3 linked regions of the Homo sapiens genome follow. The protein of the gene in region 3 purifies or fractionates together with the protein of the main gene of each other region. This does not show direct contact. Each region holds a gene or a part of one and is shown on either strand. Other genes may lie near its edges.

The links.
Region 1: the proteins of WAPL (region 3) and SMC1A purify together in Homo sapiens (affinity purification with mass spectrometry; 7 studies listed by BioGRID and IntAct, with this or other methods). This does not show direct contact.
Region 2: the proteins of WAPL (region 3) and DNAJC10 purify together in Homo sapiens (affinity purification with mass spectrometry; 3 studies listed by BioGRID and IntAct, with this or other methods). This does not show direct contact.

The regions. Positions count from the first base shown.
Region 1 is NC_000023.11:53,419,655-53,426,795, forward strand, and holds the start of SMC1A (structural maintenance of chromosomes protein 1A), read right to left. Parts: upstream 3,001-7,141; 5' UTR 2,947-3,000; coding exon 2,838-2,946; intron 2,387-2,837; exon of another isoform or gene 2,284-2,386; coding exon of another isoform or gene 2,241-2,283; intron 1-2,240. Other genes in the region: RIBC1 (RIB43A-like with coiled-coils protein 1), read left to right, coding at 6,623-6,739. UniProt on the Homo sapiens protein: Involved in chromosome cohesion during cell cycle and in DNA repair. Central component of cohesin complex. The cohesin complex is required for the cohesion of sister chromatids after DNA replication.
Region 2 is NC_000002.12:182,712,196-182,719,256, reverse strand, and holds the start of DNAJC10 (dnaJ homolog subfamily C member 10 isoform 1 precursor), read right to left. Parts: upstream 3,001-7,061; 5' UTR 2,774-3,000; intron 2,567-2,773; coding exon of another isoform or gene 2,493-2,566; exon of another isoform or gene 2,460-2,492; intron 2,242-2,459; 5' UTR 2,185-2,241; intron 1,317-2,184; 5' UTR 1,171-1,316; coding exon 967-1,170; intron 1-966. UniProt on the Homo sapiens protein: Endoplasmic reticulum disulfide reductase involved both in the correct folding of proteins and degradation of misfolded proteins.
Region 3 is NC_000010.11:86,518,756-86,526,747, reverse strand, and holds the start of WAPL (wings apart-like protein homolog), read left to right. Parts: upstream 1-4,955; 5' UTR 4,956-5,383; intron 5,384-7,992. UniProt on the Homo sapiens protein: Regulator of sister chromatid cohesion in mitosis which negatively regulates cohesin association with chromatin. Involved in both sister chromatid cohesion during interphase and sister-chromatid resolution during early stages of mitosis.

The DNA of each region.
Region 1 (7,141 bases), on a different chromosome or scaffold from region 3:
CTCTACTAAAAATACAAAAACTGGCCGGGCATAGTGGTGCACGCCTGTAATCCCAGCTCCTCAGGAGGCTGAGGCAGGAGAATAGCTTGAACCCGGGAGGCAGAGGTTGCAGTGAGCTGAGATCACGCCACTGCACTCCAGCCTGGGCGACAGAGAAAGACTTCATCTCAAAAAAAAAAAAAAGAAAAAAAAGAAAAGAATCACTTGAACCCAGCAGGCAGAAGTTGCAGTGAGCCGAGGTCATGCCACTGCACTCCAGTGTGGGCGTCAGAGTGAGACTCCATCTAAAAAAGCTTGCAAACTTGGGCTTAGAACCAACAGACCAGGTTCTAATCTTACTTTCACTACCACTTAGCTGACCTTCCATTCCCTCACCTGGAAAAAGATGAAAAAAACCACAATTCACGGGTCTAAAAATATGTGCGGCACATACTTCTCTATTGGAGTGGCAGGAGCACAGGCATGGGTTCTGAGAACCACGGACAAGTTATCACACCTCTGTGCCTTAGTCTCCTCATGTATAAAACGAAGCTATTGGCATTTTCCTCCTAGGGTCATTTTGAGAATTTAATTGTAAAGGGTCCCTTGGCTGGGTGCAGTGGCTCATGCCTGTAATCCCAGCACTTTGGGAGGCTGAGGCAGGCAGATCACTTGAGCCCAGGAGTTTGAGACCAGCCTGGCCAACTGGGAGAAACACCAACTCTACTAAAAATACAAGAACTAGCCAGATGGGGTGGCGCACGCCTGTAGTCCCAGCTACTTGGGAGGCTGAGGCACGAGAATCACTTGAACCCAAGAGGCAGAGGTTGCAGTGAGCCAACATCATGCCACTGCACTCCAGCCTGGACAACAGAGCAAGACTGTCTCAAAAAAAAAAAAAAAGAAAAGAAAAAGAAAAAGAAAAAACAGGGTCCCAATAAATAAAGTACTTGACACACAGAGTAGGTACTCAATTAATTAGTCCTATCCTAAGTCTGGACTCAGCTGTCTCCCTCATCACAGCAGGACTAGCACATCATGCAGACCAGGAGTCAGCCTTTTAGGAACCAATATCCAACCTTTGGGCTTCTCCCATCATTTCCAGGGAGGACAACATCATCTCACAACCCCAAGCCTCTCTAATCACAATCAATATGGTAAACATTTTTGTAATATATATTATGGACTGAACACCAGTAAAACGTTTCAAGGAATGTCTGCTTTAGGGTACTCACAGGCCAATGAAGATACAAAAACATGCACCATCAATATAGGACTTAATAAACATTAACGTGTACCAAGTGTCTACGGTATGCCACAGAGGAAGACTCACTCACCAAAGGGACTAAAGGAATGGCTTGTAGAGGTGGGCCTTGAAGAACGGGGGCAAGTGGGGGAGTGCCATAGCCCTTTTCAGAACAGCTGGGAATACAAATCTACTAATGCTGAGGGGACTGAATGCCAAGAGGTACATCCTAGCTCTTCCAACAGGGGCCACTACACTAAAACCCGAGGAAACTGGGTGGACACCAAGCATTAGCCCTCCAGGCCAGTGGTTCTCAAACAAGTTGGGGGGTTGGGGGAATCACACACACCCTCTGTGACATCTAGCAATGTCTAGAGACAGTTTTGATTGTCATGCCTGGGGAGCAGGGGTGCTACTGTTATCTAGCAGGTAGATGCCAGAGATGCTGTTAAACATCCTACAATGCACAGAGCACATCCCACAGCAAAGGATTATCTCGCTGGAAATGTCAATAGTGCCACTGTTGAGACACTCAGTCTCCAGGAAAGGTACTCAGTATGTGCTACTTCAGCAAGGGCAGCCTCTTAGGCTAGGATATCATTCAGCTAGAACATCTCTGGGGTGGAAGAATACAGCAGGATTCCAAATGGACATCTGAGGTGAGAGGAATCCACGGTGTATCGTTTAGAGTTGGGAAGACACAAAATAGAGGCTTTACCTGACCACCCTTTCTAAAGACACCACCTAAGTCACTTTATCACATCCACCTGTCTCATTTCCTGTATAGCACTTATGACAGCCTAAAACCATCTTATTTTCTCCTTATCTTCTTTCCCCTCTGGAATATAAGTTCCCTGTGAGCATGGAGTTGGTTTATTCTATTCTCCGCTGTTTCCACAACTTGCAACTGAATAACTCCTGATAAACAATAAGCATTCAACAAATTTGGTAAATTAGTTAATTTCGGCTTTTGACGGTTTCGGTGGTAGGAAAAGGGCGAGTTCGAGGCAACTACCTCTGACATAGCGGTGGGGGGTGGGGATCGACACCTCAAGCATTCTAAAGACTGGAGCGCTGGGTCTGAAATTCAAAAGTGCCGCCTCCAGAGAAGAGTAGAAAGGAGTTGGAGTGTACCAATGCGAGGCGAGAGAGGACGCTGGGCTGAAACAGAAGTGCACCGTTTGGGACCGAAGGCCACGGGAGAGCTACCAGCGTCCCCACATTCTCCGGAGGGGGTCAAGTAAGGCTGGGAAGCCGGCTCCGGCCGGTCCGGCGGGGAGCCGCGCGGCGGAGGACTGAGCTGGCGGGAAGCTGGTTCCAGACGCGACTCCTTTGGCGGGAGGGGGAAGTAGGCGGGGTAACTGGCAGCTCGGCCTGTACCACTGGGCCGGGGCGGGGGCCGCGCAGGAAGCGGCAAGTGACACCTGGAAGGGGTTCGAGTTAGAGCACCCGCGCGGGGAGAGTGGGTTCGAGCAGAACCCCCTCTGGACGGGCAAGGAACCCGTAAGGGTCCGCGACGTTTCAGGTTACATGGGCTGGGTTGTACTACTCCGGCACCGGATAAGGGGTCCAGGCCGGGACGTGCGCAGGGCCGCGGCCAGGTTTATCTCACCAGAGCCATTGGGTCCAATGATGGCGGTGAACCTCTGAAATGGTCCGATAATCTGTCGACCCTTGTACGACTTAAAGTTCTCAATCTCAATCAGTTTCAGGAACCCCATGACGGCCGCGGCGCCGGCGGCAGTAGGACAGGCCGCGCCGTACGCCCGAGAACTGAGGTAGCCCGCGCGGGAAACGCCGCAGTGCAAGCCGGGCGACCGGCAAATGTCGCGAGAATACGTCCAGGCCTAACGGGATTTTCGCCTTCCGGCAGGAGTGGGACCAGGGGCGGGGACTGATGTTGCGTATACGAGGAGCGAGCTGACGACTGGCGTGGTGCCTCCGCCCCCCTTTCTTGTTGCATGGCAACAACAAACACTTGCTCCTGCGGACCAGATCCCCGGAGGAGTTGTTGCTGGGCGGAGTCAGAGCAGTTCTTGAGGTTCAAGGAGGCGGGGGAGACCTGAGCTCACGCTTGCTGAGACAGAAGTCACAGCAGGATTATGCCCCTCAGGGCAAGAGGAAGGTGGGAGCTCGGCTGTGGCTTTAGCCTGGCCAGCTTTCAAGGCTAGGACAAGGACAGGGTCGGGAATTGGAAGGACCCGGGGGGAGCGGAGAGCTGGACGGGAAGGAGGGGCCAACGGGAGGATTCAGTGTTAGGTGAGCTCAGACTTTGCTAATGGTGGGGTGGGATTGGTGGCGGGACGGGTTGCGAAGGCGGACGGGTTGTGAATGGGACTGGGGCTACTCCCAGGCAACAGGGATACAGGCTGGGGAAGGCTACGGCCTGAGATACTACCCCTATCCCCTGCCTCCCTCCTGTTGTACCAAGCAGAGTTCAGAAACTGCCGCCGTAACCCAAGAACAAAGTTGCATGCAGAGCCAACCTAAGAGCTTCAAAATCGGGATTCCTTACTGAGAAAGGTATTTTGTGTGAACCCCCAGGAGTCAGGGTCCCTAAGCCAGCGCTCTCCACCTCCACCTACCTCTGCCTCCATGCCTCTCCCCCATCCCATTCCCACAGCTCTATACCACAATGCCACCTTACCTCTCTTCCCTCTCTGCTCTCTATCATTAATAAGGCAGGGGCCTTAGCAATCCAAGAAGCTTAAAATGTCAGCTGAATCTTCCCCTTCAGTGACCTTATACTGTAATGGCAGGTGAAACCAGTAGGTAAGTTGGTGCCATTCTCAGACTTAAACATGGAAAGGATCTGGTGGTTGCCATAATTATTCCTTTAACTATTTATTAAATTATGTCCGAAGGCTAGAAAGAGTCCTAAAGACTTAGGACAAGTCCAGGAAAGTGAGGAAGTGGCTGGGCATGGTGGCTGACAACTGTAATCCCATCGTGAGGGAGGCAGGCCAAGGCAGGAGGATCACTTGAGACCAGCAGTTCAAGACCAGCCTGGGCAACATAGTGAGACCCTATCTCTACTAAAAATTAAAAAATTAGCTGGGTGTGGCAGCTCTCACCTCTGGTCTACCCAGGATGCCGAAGCAGGAGGATCACTTGAGCCTGGGAGGTTGAGGCTGTAGTGAGTGGTGTCCGCACCACTTCACTCCAGCCTAGGTGACAGAGCAATACCCTGTCTCAAAAATAAATAAAGGGAGGAAGCTTGGTAGATGGAATCTAGTAGGGGAGCCATAAATGAAGTTCAGCTGGGAGAAACAATCAGGCTGAGGGGATAAAATGGCTAAAAGACAGCAATCTCATGTAATCCATGGGGAAATACTGTTCCCTTTTAAAAGATGAGATGGTGAGCCTGGGTAACATAGCAAAACCCAATCTCTACAAAAAAATTTTAAAAATTAGGCAGGCATGGTGGCACACACCTGTAGTCCCAGCTACTCAGGAGGCTGGGGCAGGAAGATCCTTTGAGCCCAGGAGTTTGAGGCTGCAGTGAGCCATGATTGCACCACTACACTCCATCCTGGGCAACAGAGAGAGACCCCATCTAAAACAAATTAAAAATAAAATAAATTTTATTCTCTGCCTCAGCCTTCCAAGTAGCTAGGATTACAGGTGCCCACTGCCACGCCTGGCTAATTTTTTTGTATTTTTAGTAAAGACAGGGTTTCACTATGTTGGCCAGGCTGGTCTTGAACTCCTGACCTCCTGATCCACCTGCCTCGGCCTCCCAAAGTGCTGGGATTACAGGCGTGAGCCACCGCGCCCGGCCAAAAATAAAATAAAATTTTAAATTTAAAAAAGATGAGATGGCACTTGGGGGGAAAATTAAATTGGATCCTTATCTCACACCATACACAAAATGCAACTCCAAGTGGATTAAAAACCTAAGTGACGCCGGGCACAATGGCTCATGCCTGTAATACCAGCACTTTGGGAGGCCGAGGCAGGAGAATTGCTTGAGTTCAAGACTAGCTTGGGCAATATAGTGAGACCCCATCTATATTAAAAAAAATTAAATGGGGCCAGGTGTGGTGGCTCATGCCTGTAATCCCAGCACTTTGGGAGGCCAAGGAGGGTGGATCATAAGGTCAGGAGATTGAGACTATCCTGGCTAACACTGTGAAACCCCATCTCTACTAAAAATACAAAAATCAGCCGGGCATATATGTTCAACTACTTCACAGTTACAAAATGGAAAACAAAACAAAACACCAAAAAGATCCAAATAGCTATAGGAGGAATTAAAGAATCACGCTCCAAACAAAGGAACAGCACATACAAAGGCCCCGGGGTGGGAACAATTACTGTGTTGGAGGACTTGATCAGCTTGCCTGGAGCACTGTAAGCAAGGGAGACAGTGGTTTGAGACAAATTGGAGAGGTGTGCAGGAACTAGATCTTGAAAGCCCACAGTAAGGAGTTTGGATCTGATTCTAAGTATAGTGGGAAGCTAGTGGAGGATTTAAGCAGGTGAGAGACATGATCAGATTTATGTTTGCTAAAGTTTTTTTGGCTGCAGCTTTGGCTGGGTTACATGCCAAAAGTGAGCTTCCCAAAATATGAAGGAACACAGGCAAATTTAGCTTTCTAGCCTTTCATTTGACCAGAAAATAAGTAATAAAAGTAAAAAAAAAAAAAAAAAAAAAAAAAAGGGTGGGGGGACATATATTTCAGAAAAGAAAGCTGCTTCTGGTTTCTGTGATTGGGCTATAGGAGTCAATAGAGGAAGCTGGAATACCAACATGGAGACAGTTGTGGTTATTCAGGAAGCTGGCAATGGTGGCTTGGATAAGGGTTATTTTGAAAGAAGAAGGAGTGAGGGAAAGGAAGGATTAAAGGATGTCTCCTAGGTTTTTGACCGGAGCAACTTGGTGAATGGTGGTGCCACTTACTGAAATAAGGAAAACTGAATAGAGTATAATGAAAAAGGAGTGTTGTAGATGTGTTTGAGGCTTAGAAAGGTGAGCAGGGGTCAGATCATGAAGAACCTTATAAATCTGGCAAAGGGGGTTGGGCCTTATAAGCACTGGGGAGCCATTGCTTTAAAGGTGCTTTCAAAGGCTTTACGCTGAGGAGTGCCATGGTCAGATTTGCTTCCCAAAGATCACTCTGGTAGCCAGTGCAGAGAAATCCAGTGCAGAGAGGGTAACGTTGGAGCAAGAGAACCCAGTGGGGCTCCTGAGATACTGCCTGACACCAGATTGTGAGGCCTGAATTAAGCTGGTGACAGCAGAGATGGAGGGCACAGATACGAAATATATCAGGAAGTAAAATCAGTAGGAATCAATAACTGCTGAAATATTATAGGGAGAAAGGAATGGGGGTGGCGTGTAGTCAAAGACGGTGGTCGGCACTGATGGGCCATTCCACCTCCCTTTTGCTCCAGATGTATAACATAAAACAGTCAACAGATACCAAGGAAGCAGCAGCCATCGAGGCTAGAAGAAATCGAGAAAAAGAGCGACAAAACCGATTCTTCAATGTGCGGAACCGAGTCATGGGGGTGAGTGGGTAGTAGGGACTGTTGCTCAGGATCAGGGCCACCTCACTCTTACACCTGGAGAGGAATGTGTAACAGTGCCCATGATAGCCCTTCCCCTGATTCAAGTAGGCCCCTAGGGCAGGAAAGGAAAGAGAGGGAGAGAAGGCACCCACCCCTACAGGCCTGGGAAGAGCTTGGGAAGAGGGATAGGTCAGTGCAGGGGAAGAGACTAGGGGAGACGGCTGACCCTTCTCCAGTCAGCTCTGGGCCATGTGACCTGGTTCTTGAGACAGGCAACATGGAGCTAAAAGAGGCCTAAAGAATATTTGGAGTCCGGGTGCAGTGGCTTACACCTGTAATCCCAGCACTTTAGGAGGCTGAGGTGAGCAGATCACACAAGGTCAGGAGTTAAAGACCAGCCTG
Region 2 (7,061 bases), on a different chromosome or scaffold from region 3:
AAAAAAGAAAACAATCCAAAATTGGATCGGAAATGTTTCTTCCTTGTTACTGTGCTTCATAAAATTTGTTTCTGAAGGATGCTTTCATTTAAATAATACTCGGATGGTAGAAGGTCTACTGTCTTTTATATGGAAACTTAAAAATCATTATTTGAAATTTTAAAGAAAAATTAAAAAAAAATAAAAACCTTAAATAGAATGTGGATCTTAGGAAAAGATAATCAACTAAACAATATTTAAAGAAATATTGTTTCTCTTGCTCAGCTTTATGCAATGAAAATAATCCTATTTTAAAACTTCTACCTAGAAAAGAGAAAATTATAACTATGTCTTCTTGTTAATGATGAACGCTAAATCTCACTAAGAAATAATCAAATAAATTACAAAAACACCATAAAAATTAAAATGAGTTTAGTTTTGAAAGATTTACATTAATGTGTACATAAATATTTATGACTGGCATTATATTCAGCTGCTGTGAAGTATTAATTTATAAAACTTTCTAACTCTGGTTTGTGGACTTGTGCATACACAGAAGAAAACAGTCAAAGTTAAAACATGCTATTATTAGCTATTACTTCTATTTTTAGCAAGTCATACCCTCTGAGTTTTAAAAAAATATTTTTGTTCCTGTTCTAAAACACTTGATCTTAACCTACTTTAATAAGAAAACTACTTCAACTACTTCACGGATATTATCGTTTGTTTTGGGGTTAATGTCTTTAATAGAATTGTTGGAAAATCGTCTACAAATTAAGAGGGAACTGAATTTTTGGTACTGACATTCCTTCACGGGATCCTAAATAATCCAGAACATTTTGGTGCTTTTGTTTCTAGCATACAAGTTGAATTATAATTTTGACATATGATTATTCTTAAGCATTTGATCATTTAAAGCAATTTAAATAAATATCAAAATGTACCAAAAATATAATCAAATATTTTTAAAAACAAACGTTTACCTACCGGGTTTTTATCAGGATGTAACTTCAATGCCAATTTCTTGAAAGCTTGTCTTATTTCTCTACTGCTTGCAGTTTTGGACACTCCAAGTAAACTGTAAAAATCCTGATCTGTGCCCACTAAAATGGCCATATACACTATCAGAAAACAGAGAATGATCCTTTTCAAGTCTCTGATATAGTCATCTTTATTTAACCAGACTCCCATTCTCTTTCTTATGCAAGTTCTGATTTAAGTGAACATTAAGATTCACTGCTGGTTCCAGTTGATGTAATATGCAAATTTGAGAACTTCTGTCTACATTACTTCAAGGGTGAATCAAGCATCACAAATCTGTCCCCAAAAATATTAATCTAAGAAAGAAAAGCAGGCAGTTAAAATACATTTTGAACTAAACAATAATAGCACAATTTATTTATCACAGAACATGGTCAGCAATACAATCTCCATTAAATGGCAAATCAGTGTGAATGCCCCAGGTTCTATTTTTCACTCTTTCTACATCCATGTAGCTAGATTTGTGAAATCACTGAAGATAGCAGAAAAAAGGTCATGAGTGGTAGTAAGTAGCTTGCACACACACCCTCAGCAATTTATACACTGAGAAAAGACCTCTGACGAGCATCAGAACACAAAGGTGGCAATGAGCTACAGGTGCTTCCTCTTTCTACCCAGTTATAGCGTTGCCTGTAATACCTCTTCCTTTTAGCTACTTCTTTACCTCCTAAAGCTGTCTAATTTTCATTTTCAGCAGAATTCACTTGTAGGAAATGTCCTTGGGAGGGACTAGAAGGAAACATAGGGTTTTTTACTTCTCATATAACCCTACCAGAAATGACAGTGAAATATATTGTTATAATAGACAATCTACACAGCAGTCGATCTTCTTCCCGGAGTTTCCTCAGAAGGTGCTTATACTGAATTTAAGTAGAGGCCATTTTTTAAAAATAGTAGAAAAACAATTGTAAGTTACCAGTGTAATTTTATTGCAAAGTTCATGTTTGGTGTAAGTAGAAACAAAACACAAAAAGAGAAGGGAATCGGTTATTTAGACATACTCTCTGCAGGGCAAAAACAATCATTACTTCATCATATCACATTTCAACCACTATATTTTAGTTCCAAAGAGATCGTAATGCTTTGAAAAATCTAACGCTCCTCGCACCTCATTTCTGTTTTTCATTTAATCCTAAATGTATATTTAAAAATTTTTCTCTTTACCTGTGAATGGTCTTCAGCTCATTTCTAATACTTCCTTTTCATTCCACAAAAATATACCTTTGAAAAATATAATGATGTAGAGATTAACAAGTATCCAAACAAGAAAACAACCATCAGAAAAAGAGAGGGCATAGTCTCAATCAACACTTTGGGATAAGATGTTTCTCGCCCAGGGGTTGTTCTCAGCGTGGGTGTGGCCGAACTGCCCGTGGCCCGAGCTACCGGGCAGGTGGAAGCGCCAGGTAAATGCAAGGCGCAAGCTTTCGCATTGCCATCACTGCAGAGTGGGAGAGGGGAGAGGGGTAAAGATGAAGACACGGGGGAACAGGGCTGTTAAGTGTTGCTGGTGTCTGAAGTCTCAGGTCGGACTTAGGGAGAAAGTGTAAGTAACTGAGAGGGAATCGCTGGGCAGAGGAAGGGTGGTGTGAATAACAGGGAGGAGGAAGGTGGGGAGCGAGAACACAATATCCAGGTCTTAAGAGCGCACAGGAAGGGAGGTTCAGGCGCTCAGCCATTCCGCCCCTCCCTGACCGGAGGGCCCAGGCCACCACCGGCTCCAGCAAAGCCCTAGCCCCGGGCCCATGCCCACCTTGCCATCGCGGGGTCGCTTCCTGTAGCTACTCCCCCATCCTCAAACCCTGGCGGCGGACCCCGCCTGGCCGAGCCCAAGCACCGCGTGCAGGAGAGAAGCACACGCACTCTCCGACGGCCCAGCCGCGGCGCACGGGATTGGTGAGGTGCAGCCACACCGGCGACTACCAGCGCGCGGCCGGTACCGGTAGGTTCCTCACGCGCCGGTCTCCACGGCGAGCCGGGGCGGGGCCTGGCGCGGAGCATTGTGGGAAAGGCGTGGAGGACGCTGCCTGGGGAGACCCGCTGCGGGCCCAGCGGGCGCTGCGGCGGTGGGGTGGAGAGGGCGGTGTAGGTTTAGGTTGACGTGGCGGTGTGCGCGGGATCCGGCTCCGGCTCCGGCTCCAACCCGGAGCTGAGGGAACTGCCCTGGCCAAGCAGCCCGCGCCCCCTCACCAATGCGGCCGGCGCCTGCCGCGGGCGGGGAGGGTGGATGGCGAAGCCCGCCTCTTCCTGCTTCCGTTGCCAGGGTGACGGGGAAACCCAGAGGGTGGGTTTTGGGGTTGAGTTCCCTGAGAGTCTTTTAAAGGGAAGACGGAGCTTTGGAGGATTTGTCTGGGTGATGGGTGGGTGAGACCGAAAGGCGAAATTTGGCGGAGAAAGGAGAAGTTGCCTGAAGCGACACTGATTGCAGTATCAGGCTAGCGGACTGAAGAGGCAGTAGGAAACTTGAAGGAAATTAAAACATTTACAATTTTGTGTAAGCGTGTGTATCAACAAGCATTTGAGACTTCTACAATATTTTCTGGATTCTGAGTCATACAAGCTAGAAACTGGGGAGTTATCGTTGTTCTCTCTTACCTTGATCTCCTACTGCTATGGTACAGGAACTGCATTTTGTCCCACAGCAATATAACAATTGAAGTGGTTATATTTACTACATTTTCTATATTTAAAAGAGAAAACCGAGCCTAGAGGATACCTGCTTATAACATCAACCCTAACATGAAATAAGTTGTGATTGGTAACAGTTTCGGGGAGTAAATCAAGTGTCAGCTTCTAAAAACTTGGAAAACTACACAGGATCTATGGCTAAGCTAATACTTGGTAGGAAAGAAGAGGAAGTAGAATGAACAAAGGCAAACATTAGAAGCAGCCTGATGTAATAGTAGTTAATATGTCTCAGGAACTGGTCTAAGCACACATGTAGTAACTCATTTAGTCCTCCAAATAATCTTACAAGATAGTGGCTCCTATATCTATTTCCCATTTGAGGAAACTGAGGCAAATATTTGAGAGCTAGGATTCACATCTAAGCAACCTGGCTTCAGAGACTATGATGTTAAGCATTATGACACAGTGTGTAACCATTTTGTTACACACTGTAACAAAATCTTAAAGTAAATTGAAAAACAAACAGAAAACTGGAAGATGAAGCAGGGACCAGATCACAGACAGGTTTTTATACCAAGATGAAGACATAGATTTCTATCTCTTAGGTGATGAGGAAGCTTTTAAAAAAGAGACTGAGATTGTATTTTAGATCATCCTGGCAGCTATTGGAGAGAGGATGCAAAGCATACAAAACTGGAGAAAGAACAGGAGAATGTTAGACAAATAGGGTAAATGCTTTAAGAGGTGGTGGGCCGGGTGTGGTGGCTCACGCTTGTAATCGCAGAACTTTGAGGGGCTGAGGCGGGTGGATCACTTGAGGTCAAGAGGTCGAGACCAGCCTGGCCAACGTGGTGAAATCCCATCTCTACTAAAAATACAAAAATAAGCCGGGCATGGTGGCACACCCCTATAATCCCAGCTACTCGGGAGTCAAGAGAATCGCTTGAACCCGGGAGACAGAGGTTGCAGTGAGCCAAGATCACACCACTGCACACCAGCCTGGGTACAGAGCAAGACTCTGTCTTGGGGGAAAAAAAAAAGTAAGAGATGGTGATTGGTTGGATATGGGAGATAAAGGAAAGATTTAAGTTTAACTTCTGACTTCTTATGGCTGAATACTACCCACTGAATGAAGATCTGTTTAGGGAAAAGATAAAGGGTTCTGACTTGGACATATCTAGTTCAAGGTTCCTAGATCATATCTTAGTGAATATACCCTGCATAAAACTCATGGGTAATGTCTAGATTGGAGAAAAAATAGGAGAAAAATCATCAGATCACCCAAAGAAAGTGTGCAGAATAAGTAAAGTTGTGGACCAAGGATTAAAACCTTGGGGAATTCTAACATCAAGAATGAAAGCACACACGGAAAAAGAATCTAAGCTTCATGAAGGTGGATTTTTGTTCATTTTATTTACTGTTATGGCTCCAGCTGTTCTTACTATATGGTAGGTACTACATAAATATTTTTTGAATGAATAAACATTAATTTGAGAAATAGGCTGAAGAAGAAGAACCCATACAGGATGTAAAAAAGAGATGATCAGAGATGGGCAAAAGGAACTAAACATCAAGGAAGTTAGAGTGAGTCAGATAAGATACTGACTGCAACTTGTTAATTAGGTCTGGCAATTAGGAGGTTATAGGGACCTTAGTAAGCACAATTTTGGTGGATGGTAAGGCTGGAAGTTAGATTGTAGTAGACTAAAGATTGGCTAGGAGCTGAGGAAATGGAAATAGCAAGTACATATACTCTGTTCAGAGTTTGGGTGAAAAGAGGAAGGAAACTCATGTAACTAGAAGAGGATGTGGATTCCAAAGAGGAAATGCTTTAGGCTTGGAAAGGCTTGAGCAAGTTCATAAGCTGAGTAGAAGCCAAAAAAGAAAGAGGCCACAGATATGAGAGGGATGGAGTCAAGAGCACAGATGGATTGATAATCTTACACAGTTCATTTATTTATTTATTTAGTATTTTTTGAGATGGAGTTTTGTTCTTATTGTCCAGGCTGGAGTGCAATGGTGCGATCTTGGCTCATTGCAATCTCTGCTTCCCAGGTTCAAGCAATTCTCCTGTCTCAGCCTCCCAAGTAGTGGGGATTACAGGCACATGCCACCACACCTAAATAATTTTTGTATTTTTAGTAGAGACGAGGTTTCATCATATTGGTCAGGCTGGTCTCGAACTCCTGACCTCAGGTGATCTGCCCACCTCAGCCTCCCAAAGTGCACATTTAATTTATTAATTAAAGTAGTCTACTGTTCTCTGGGCTAGGTCATTAGGGTTACTGTGGTGAGCAAGGACATAGCTCTGCCCTCAGTAAGTAGGATAATAGAGGACACATCAATTATTCAAACAAATCTGTAATTATGAAGGAAGAATACATAGTGTTGTGATGTTGTGAGCTACTCTAGGGGCAAAGATTTGCCAAAGGTTTCACCAAAAATAAAAATAAAAAGGAAGAAATTTAACATATATGGGCAAAAAATTAGGCAATATTATAGTCAGATTGAACAGCAAGTGCATAGTTCTTGTACTTCAAAAGAGCATGGGTGTTAAAGGAACAAAAAGATCACCAGAATGTAGCAAGCCAAAAGGAGAGAGTCAACAAAATGGGAATGTAAAAGCAGACAGGGACAAGATGTAGTTTATTTTAAGGAGTTTGGGCCTTTTCCTATGAGCAATGGGAAGCCACAGAAGTGTTTAAACAACGGAATGTCATTACAGTATTGAATTATTTAATTTAAAAAAACTGAGCCAGGCGCGGTGGCTCATACCTGTAATCCCAGCACTTTGGGAGGCTGAGGCAGGCGGATCACGAGGTCAGGAGATTGAGACCATCCTGGCTAACACAGTGAAACCCCATCTCTACAAAAAATACAAAAAATTAGCCAGGCGTGGTGGTGGGCTCCTGTAGTCCCAGTTACTCAGGAGGCTGAGACAGGAGAATGGCATGAACCTGAGAGGCGGAGCTTGCAGTGAGCAGAGATCAGGCCACTGCACTCCAGCTTAGGCAACAGAGCAAGACTCCGTCTCAAAAAAAAAGAAAAAAATGGAAAAGAATTTCAAAGTTACAAGAATGTTAAATGTATAGAACAAGTAATTTTGTTTCCTCAACCATTTGTGAGTAAGTTGTTAACTTCTTGTCCCGTTGTCTCCCAAAACTGGTTTATGTTTTTTAACAAACAAGGACATTCTCCTTCATAACCAAAACACAATCATCAAAATCCAGAAATTAACACTGATATCTTATTACCATCTAATCCTCAGACCCCATTTAGGTCTTGCCAATTGTCCCAATAACATATTTGCGGTACAAAGATCTACCTGGCAACTACTTGTTTCAATTTAGTGTCCTGATATTTCAGGCTCCCTCAGTTGGAAACAGTTCTTCAGTTTTTCCTTGACTTTTAAG
Region 3 (7,992 bases):
GCCAGATCATGCAGGGCCTTTTCACCGTTAAGAACTTTGGATTTTAGTATTACAGGAGGACCCTTCAGGGTGTTTGACTAGGCGGGTATCATACAGTATTAAGGGTGAGGATCCTGAATAAAAAAGGGCTGTTTCCAGGACAAGGGTCAGGAAGCCAGACTTCTTCGAGGTTGCTTGTACCGGTCCTTGTCAGGCAATGTGCTCCTAGAGAATTTCCTTTGCTTTGTGTTTCATCTACCTAGACAGCAGTGTATTCCCCAGAGGACGTCACTATCTCCAGAGAACATATTCCAATTATCCTGGGAAATATGATAATTGGGATTATAACAGTACTCATTTTCTCAATTCTCAGAATGAAAACCTATCCAAGGCAAGAACAAAAGTTCTCCAGAAAGCACTCCCCTCCCAATTGTGAAAACCCAGTTAACATTTTATTAGAGCTACCAGGTTATGTGAAACTGTTGATAGTTTTATCACTTTCCTTTCAAGATATAGGCAGGGGCAGTGGCTCATGCCTGTAATTCCAGCACTTTGGGAGGCCAAGGTAGGTGGATGGCTTGAGCCCAGAAGTTCAAGACCAGCCTGGGCAACAAGGTGAAACCCTATCTCTACCAAAAATACAAAAATTAGTGGGGCATGATAGCATGGACATGTAGTCCCAGCTACTTGGGAGGCTGAGGTGGGAGGATGGCTTGAACCCTGGAGGTGGAGGTTGCAGTGATTGGAGATCGTGCCACTACATTCCAGCCTGGGCGACAGAGCAAGACTCTGTCACCAAAAAAAAAAAAAAAAAAAAAAAAAAAAAATGTGGCCAGGCATGGTAGCTCACACCTGTAATCCCAGCACTTTGGGAGGCTGAGCCAGGCGGATCACAAGGTCAAGAGATCGAAACCATCCTGGCCAACATGCAAAACACCATCTCTACTAAAATACAAAAAATGAGCTGGGTGTGGTGGTGTGCGCCTGTAGTCCCAGCTACTGGGGAGGCTGAGGCAGGGGAATCGCTTGAACCAGGGAGGCAGAGATTGCAGTGAGCCGAGATCGCGCCACTGCACTCCAGCCTGGTGACAGAGCGAGACTCCGTCTAAAAAAAAAAAAAAAAAAATATATATATATATATATATAATATATGTATATAATTTTACATGAAAGAAGGAAATAAATGGGTGCTTTTATTCAACAAATATTTATTGAGCACCTACTCTTGTGCCAGGCAGTCTTCTAGGTGCTAGGGTTGCAGCAGAAAACAAGACAGGCAGAGATCCCTGCCTTCAGAGGGAGCACAACATTTAAGATAAACATGCAAAATGCCTGATATGTTAGATGGGAAGATAAATGCCCTTAAAGAAAGTAAAGCAGGGACAGTGACATTTAGGAGTGAGGATGTTGCAACAATTTAAGATAGGTTGGTCAGGGGAGATTCATTGAAAAGTCCCATCTGAGTGAAAACCTAGAGGAGAGAATTGAAGCAGGCTGGTATCTGGGGGAGTTGTAGGCAGAGGGAATAGGAAATACAAAGGCCCTAAGGTGGGGAAACAGCAAGGAGTCAGGTGTGGGCAGAGCAGAAAGTTGGGGCTGCATGAGCAAAGGGCAGGGCCTGGCCCACATCTCGTAGAGCTTTGTAATATAACCACAACATGCAAGTGTACAATTTAACATTTTATTCCACATCCGATGGCAAAGAAAAATTGACTGCTACCAATATGGTAGTTTCTGACCTGTAGTTCCCTAAATAGAATTCTATAAGTTGTAATACACTTTACTACACATTATCAGAAAAAGACTAAAAGTTCTATTTAGTAACTCCAATTCTGACAGTTCTCATGTCTGGGCTAGAACAAGGGCATGGCAATGGCAGAACAGATGTCTTCTATTTTCTTTGCAGGATTTTCTTTTTTCAGAGGAAAGTACAGGTATGGGCCCACTCAAGTGGAGCTCCAGGTTAGGGGGTTCTGTCCTCACCCAGGCAGCACACAGGAGGGCAGAGGCCCCTCCTAAGGGTACTACAAACTTGGCTCTGATCCATGATTTCAGTTTCTGACAAACACAACATTCAGTGGGGGAAAGAAAATCAGGTATCTGAGAGCTTGCACACAGGCATTCTAGCAAAACCAAAAGCACCTACTGGCTACTTGATGTTAGTGTGAAGATTCTCATGAAATGGAGACAACCATTCTAGGGGTTGAGGTGGCCAGGGGGATGGAGCCTGAGCTGAGAGAACTAAGAAAACAAAAACAATACAACAAAAAGCTGTTCAGCCATGTGTTACCCACACTGGAGTTCTGTTTGCTCATTCTGGTGTGGAACCCAGGGCCCTGGTAAGGGAATGAGGGGACTTCAGGGCATTTGCTTGCCTCAGTGGAAGCAGGGAGGTAAGGGGTTAAGGTGGTGGTACAGCCTGCAGGGCCAGGAGTCTGAACTCCCTCCAGGAGGGGCCCGAGGGGTGTCTTTAGTGTGAGCCACACAAGGGTACAGAGCCCAGAAGAGCTCTGCTTAATATTCATATACTAAGCTTCCACAGACTAAATACACACACACACACACACACACACACACACTCACACACACTTTACTTCTCAAATCATGTACCACTTTCTACCAGATTCAAGAACACCAAGAAGTACTAAAGGGTATCCAACCGTCAAGAAAAAGTTTGACTCCCTCATTAGTTGTAACATACAAGTCTTCCCATTTCCTTACTTGTAAGATAGAGTAATGGACTGGGAAGCAGACAAGGCCCCTGAACAGCCTAGCATCTTACCTGATGCATAGGAGGTTCTTAATCATCTCCCTTCCTCTCCCTCATCCTAACGAAAAATACTAGATTGCTGTCAAATGCTATGGGTATACTTTAAATCAGTGCTTGTCAAACTTTAATGTGCAGCCCAATCAGCTGGGGGAATCCTGTTAAAATGCAGGTTCTGATTCAGTGGAGCTGGGGTGAGGGATAGGAATTATGCGTTCCTTACAGGCTTCCAGGTGATGCTACACTGCTGATTGGGGATCATTCTTTGAGTGGCAAGAATTTGACACTACTAAGTTTCATTACTTAACACAACCATCACATAAAAGCCCTCAAAAGGCACCAGTCTAAACAATAAGCCCTTCCACTTCAGCCTCATGCAGGCACTGACCCTGCCAAGTGTCCAGCACTAGAGAGGCCAGGCATAATAGACATATCCTTTGGTCTTGGGAGGATCACGACACCCTCCTACAGGAAGATCTTGCAATTGTTTCCTCACCTCTTCTGGTTTTTTGATCTTACCTTTTGCCTCTGATGATAATTACCCTTTAATTACCACCCACCACCTTGTCATCTAAATAATTATAGTAAGTGCAGCCTGCACCTCTGCCAGAAGATCTTTAAACAAAATGATAAAAACAAGTTCCTAAACTGCCAATTAAAAAAAGAGACAAAACTGACCCAAATAAAACAGTCATGTGCATCCCACCCACAGTGGAAGACATGGACTTGTTTTTCATATAAACTACAGAAGAAGTTGATTTATTTTGAAACAAGAAAAAGTACTGATTCAGTATTTAGGAAATTGTAAATGTCAGAATATAAATTCTGCAGTCAGGTAGGCAAAACAATCCAACCACACTAAAATCCACCTTAAATTCCTCTTGGGAAGAGCTGCAGGGTCTCTGAACTATTTTTCCTTTATTTGGAGTTTCCCCGATTATACCGGAGGGAGCTGGATAACTTCTGGGTGCATTAAAAGCAAATTATCCATTTGTGGGAGAAGGGCGGGCTTCTCACTGAAAGCAATTAGTAGTTTTCTAATTTCCCAGGTGGGTCTCCATTAACCGCCTAACAAACACCAAGGCTGTCGGAGTCCGACGAATCATGCACCTCTCTTAGGGGGAACTGGTTGCGCTACTCTTTAGAACGCTGTTTTCCCATGGTAGCCTTAAAAAAAACTTACCAATTTTCTGAATTAGGTAACACATTGAATGGGAAAAACCTAAGATAGCACAAAAAGGCGTACAGCGAAAAATTAAGACTCCTTCCTCCCGTCATCCGCCACCTCACTGTCCTCCCTAGAGGCAATCGCTGGTTCACTTCTTTAAACTTTTTATTATGGAAAATTTCAGATACACAAGTAAAGAGACTGTATGATGAGCACATATGCTCGCATCACGCAGCTTCAACGATGAAAAACGTTCTGCCAGCTTGTTTTATTCCTCTCCCCCAGTTTTCATAGGCGTATTTTACAGTCCTGACACCAGATCACTCTGTCAACACATCAGTAGGTCTTAAAAAAAAAAAAACAAAAAACCATAACCACATTACCGTTACCACACCCAACAAAGTTAATGATAATTGCTCAATACCATCCAATATTCTCGGGGCCACTTTCAATCGGTGAGGGGCAGACGGACTTAGAGGAAGGACTGCAGGGCTGGAGGGGCGCGAAAAAGCGAGGGGCGACGCTGCTCGTGGCCTCGGGTGTCCGGCGCCTCGCGGTCCCCGCCATCGTCACCTACGCCGGGCCAGGACCGACCAGGCCAGGTCGAGGGCGGCTCTTGACCACGCGCCCCCTGCCTCCCAGCTCCCGGGCGGCGGCCTCCGCAGGCCCGGCACAGCTGCACAGCCCGCGGTCCCCAGGCACCGGCGGGTCCCTGGAGGGGAAGCGATTGATACAGCTGCCTGCACTGCGCCACCCGCCCGGCTGCCCATCTCCGTGGCACCTGCGTCTCCCGGCTGGGCCGGGAGCTAGAAGTGGCTGCCGAGACCGGGAGGGCCCGGCCAGTCGCCCGCTCCCGCTCCCGCGCCTGGTCCTCGGCCCGCGACCTCGCGGACCTGGACTACAACTCCCGTCGGGCTCCGCGGCCGGGCCAATGGCGGGCGCCGGAGCATGCGGGGCGCAGCGCCTGCGCGGCGGTTTGAGTAAGCGGCTGCGCGATTGGCTGCGGGGTCGGGCGGCCGCGCGGGGACTGTGGGAAGCGGAGTGACGGAGCGAGCGGCTGTTGGAGGAAGGAGGTGGGGGCCGGGAGCGCAAATGGCGTTGAGATGGTTCAGGGCCCTGTTCAAACTCCAGCACTGACCATTCACCGGCGGAAGCGGCGGCGCAGGAGGCGGCGGCGGCCCAGCGGGGGCACACAGCAGGCTCTGTTACCAGCTCCAGCAGTGGCGGCCAGCGAGAGCTAGGCCTGGGCCCGGCCGGCGGCGCTCGAGGCGGGGAGGGAAGTTGCGGGGCCGCCGCTCCTGCCCCCCCAACCGGGCTTCCTATTTACCGAAAGCAGAGTCCCTCGCCTCTCTCGGCTCTCACCTGCCGGCCCTGCTCTCCCGCGCGAGGGTTCCGCGCCCGCCCGCGGGCCGTAGGGAGCGGGAGAGGCGGAGGCGGCCCGTGGCCAAAGCACCCGCCAGGCTCCGAGGGTAAGTGAGGTGTCGGGCGGCCGCCTAGGCCGGGAGGGAGCCGGGAGGGTGGGGGAGGCAGAGGCTGGGAGCGGGCGGTGGAAGTCTCACTGCCTCGCCCACCGGGCCGCTGAGGAAGTTGGGCAGGGGAATGACCTGAGGAACTCTTTTTTTCCCCTTTTATTTTCCTTTTTCGGAGTTCTTTTTCGGGCGACTGCTGATTGACTTAGCTCCCCAAACCCAGTCAAGTGTGTTGATTTCAGCCCCGAGTCCTTTCCCGTGGTTTCATCCGCCTCTGGCCGCCACTGGGGCCTTGCACTGCCTTAAGGATTCGGTGGCAGAGGCTTCCGGGGCGTCGAAAGTGACCTCCCTTTCCTGGGCGGCGCGGGTTGGGAGGAGAAAAGTTGCATTGAGTGTCTAGTCCGAGGGGTCCATCGCGCCCACTGCCCGTGGCGCCCCGGCTGTCCCCAGGTGAGGATTTCTGGTTAGTCAGGTTCGTCCCGTCCGCTTTCCATCTTTAATGGAAGCCCTTAAAGCCTTTGGGGATCGGGAAGACGCTAGATTAGGGTGGGAGTGAAGTATAAAGGCTTTTTGCTTTTTTTTTTTTTTTTTTTTTTTTAAATCACAGCGCACTTCTCTCAAAATTCGACCTGATTTTGGGCTAGGGCAAAAGCCGAACGACCGAAAAGACTTAGTCGTCAATCATTCTTTCCTTTTTAGTTAGGACAGTCTTTGGAGTTTAAAGGTTGAGCAAGATTGTGTACTTGAAACACTTAAAATTTAACTTCAAGGACGTCTGCACACTTATTTTGGAATCTGTAGTGCTTTACGCTTAGATAATGCCATTGCAAAGACATTTTATTGTGGGAAACGATAAAGGCAATCAGGAGGAGATATTATATAATGAACTTCTCTGTACCCATCGCTTGGATTTAGCAGTGACTATTAAACAAATTTATTTCATCTATACACTTCTCATTCCTTAATGTTGGAAAATCGCTGACGTTATTTCATCAGTATTTCACTATGTATTTGTAAAAGACGTGGTCTTTTGGCACAAAATTATTATTATCATTATTATTATTATTTTGAGACGGAGTTTCGCCCTTGTTGCCCAGGCTGGAGTGCAGTGGCGCGATCTCAGCTCACCGCAACCTCCGCCTCCCAGGTTCAATTGATTCTCCTGCCCCAGCCTCCGGAGTAGCTGGGATTACAGGCATGCGCCACCACGCCCGGCTAATTTTCTATTTTTAGTAGAAACGTGGTTTCTCCATGTTGGTCAGGCTGGTCTCGAACTCCTGGCCTCAGGTGATCTGCCCGTCTTGGCTTCCCAGAGTGCTGGAATTACAGGCGTGACCTGCCGCCCCCAGCCAGCACAAAATTATTTTTTATCACATAAAATAATTAAGTCCTTAGTGTCAGGTATTCATCTGAAGACTTCAAACTTTCAACAGTGAATGCTTTGTGGTTATAGAACCATTTTAACAGTTTTTCTGATGTTGGCATAAAGGAACTCAAGTCTAGATTTTTGGTTTGGCCTTTGGTTAGTATTTTTAGATGATTAGCACATAAGTGAATCCAAAACATTCCATCTTTGTTGGTGTGTATGTGTACGTACACTTACAGACCTGCAGGATCTCAGCTTTACATTCTTGAAGGAACAGAGAATCGATTTTTATTTTGTTGTCCGTGGTAGTTGCCCAGTATCCTGTTTTGTTTAGGCTGTACTTAACAAGAAAGACAGTAAGACTTGTTAGTGTTAGAGCTGCAGTGGAAGATGAAATACATCTCCTTCAGGAACACTGTTTTCTCTTAACGCAGATATGTATGATGACTAAATTATTACCTTGTCAAATTAAAATTGGGTTCTCACCAAACATGGGGGGGGGTCTACTACTGAATTTATATAAAACTCAGACAGTGACTCATTATAAATGGTAAGAATTTAAGTTAATCAAGGGAAAACAAGTGTAGATCAAAACATATTCAAAAGTATAGGTCAAATATAATTTCAATTCTTGTAGCTTTCAAAGTAATGATTTTTCATTCCTTAGGCCCTTGTTCACTTTTTAAAGTTATATTCGATGTATTCATGTTTGAACTGTAGAAAGGTCAAAGTGTTAGACAAACGGTTACTGATTGATCATGTTTAAAAAGTACTATAACTTTTTAATAGGCACAGAACTAATGCAAGTAACTTGTTTTAAAAAATGTTTGACTCTTGATTTACTGCCCTAAAGATTTTTTTTTTTGTCCTGTGAAGTAGATAAATCAGGTGAATCGATTTGCCATTTATAAATTGAAAAGGAAAATAAAAGTTGTATGTTTCTATGTCTGTATTAATCCATGAAACAGTGTAATATGCTGGAGCTCACTAGCCCCAGAAAATATAACTCAGCAAATGAGCACAGCACTATCGGGACAAGGCAGATAGGATAAGGATAGTTTCTTTCCCTAGGGAGATGACCATCTAAGGAACATTTTTAAAGTCACAGCGCAAATTACATTACACCAAGAAGCAGAATCTTCAAGATTGGGTTAAAAGCTGCAGGTTGTAAAACATGAGAAAAAGCACCATTTTGGGGACCTTTTTTCTCATGTGAATTAGTGCCATGAAATTTCAAAGAACT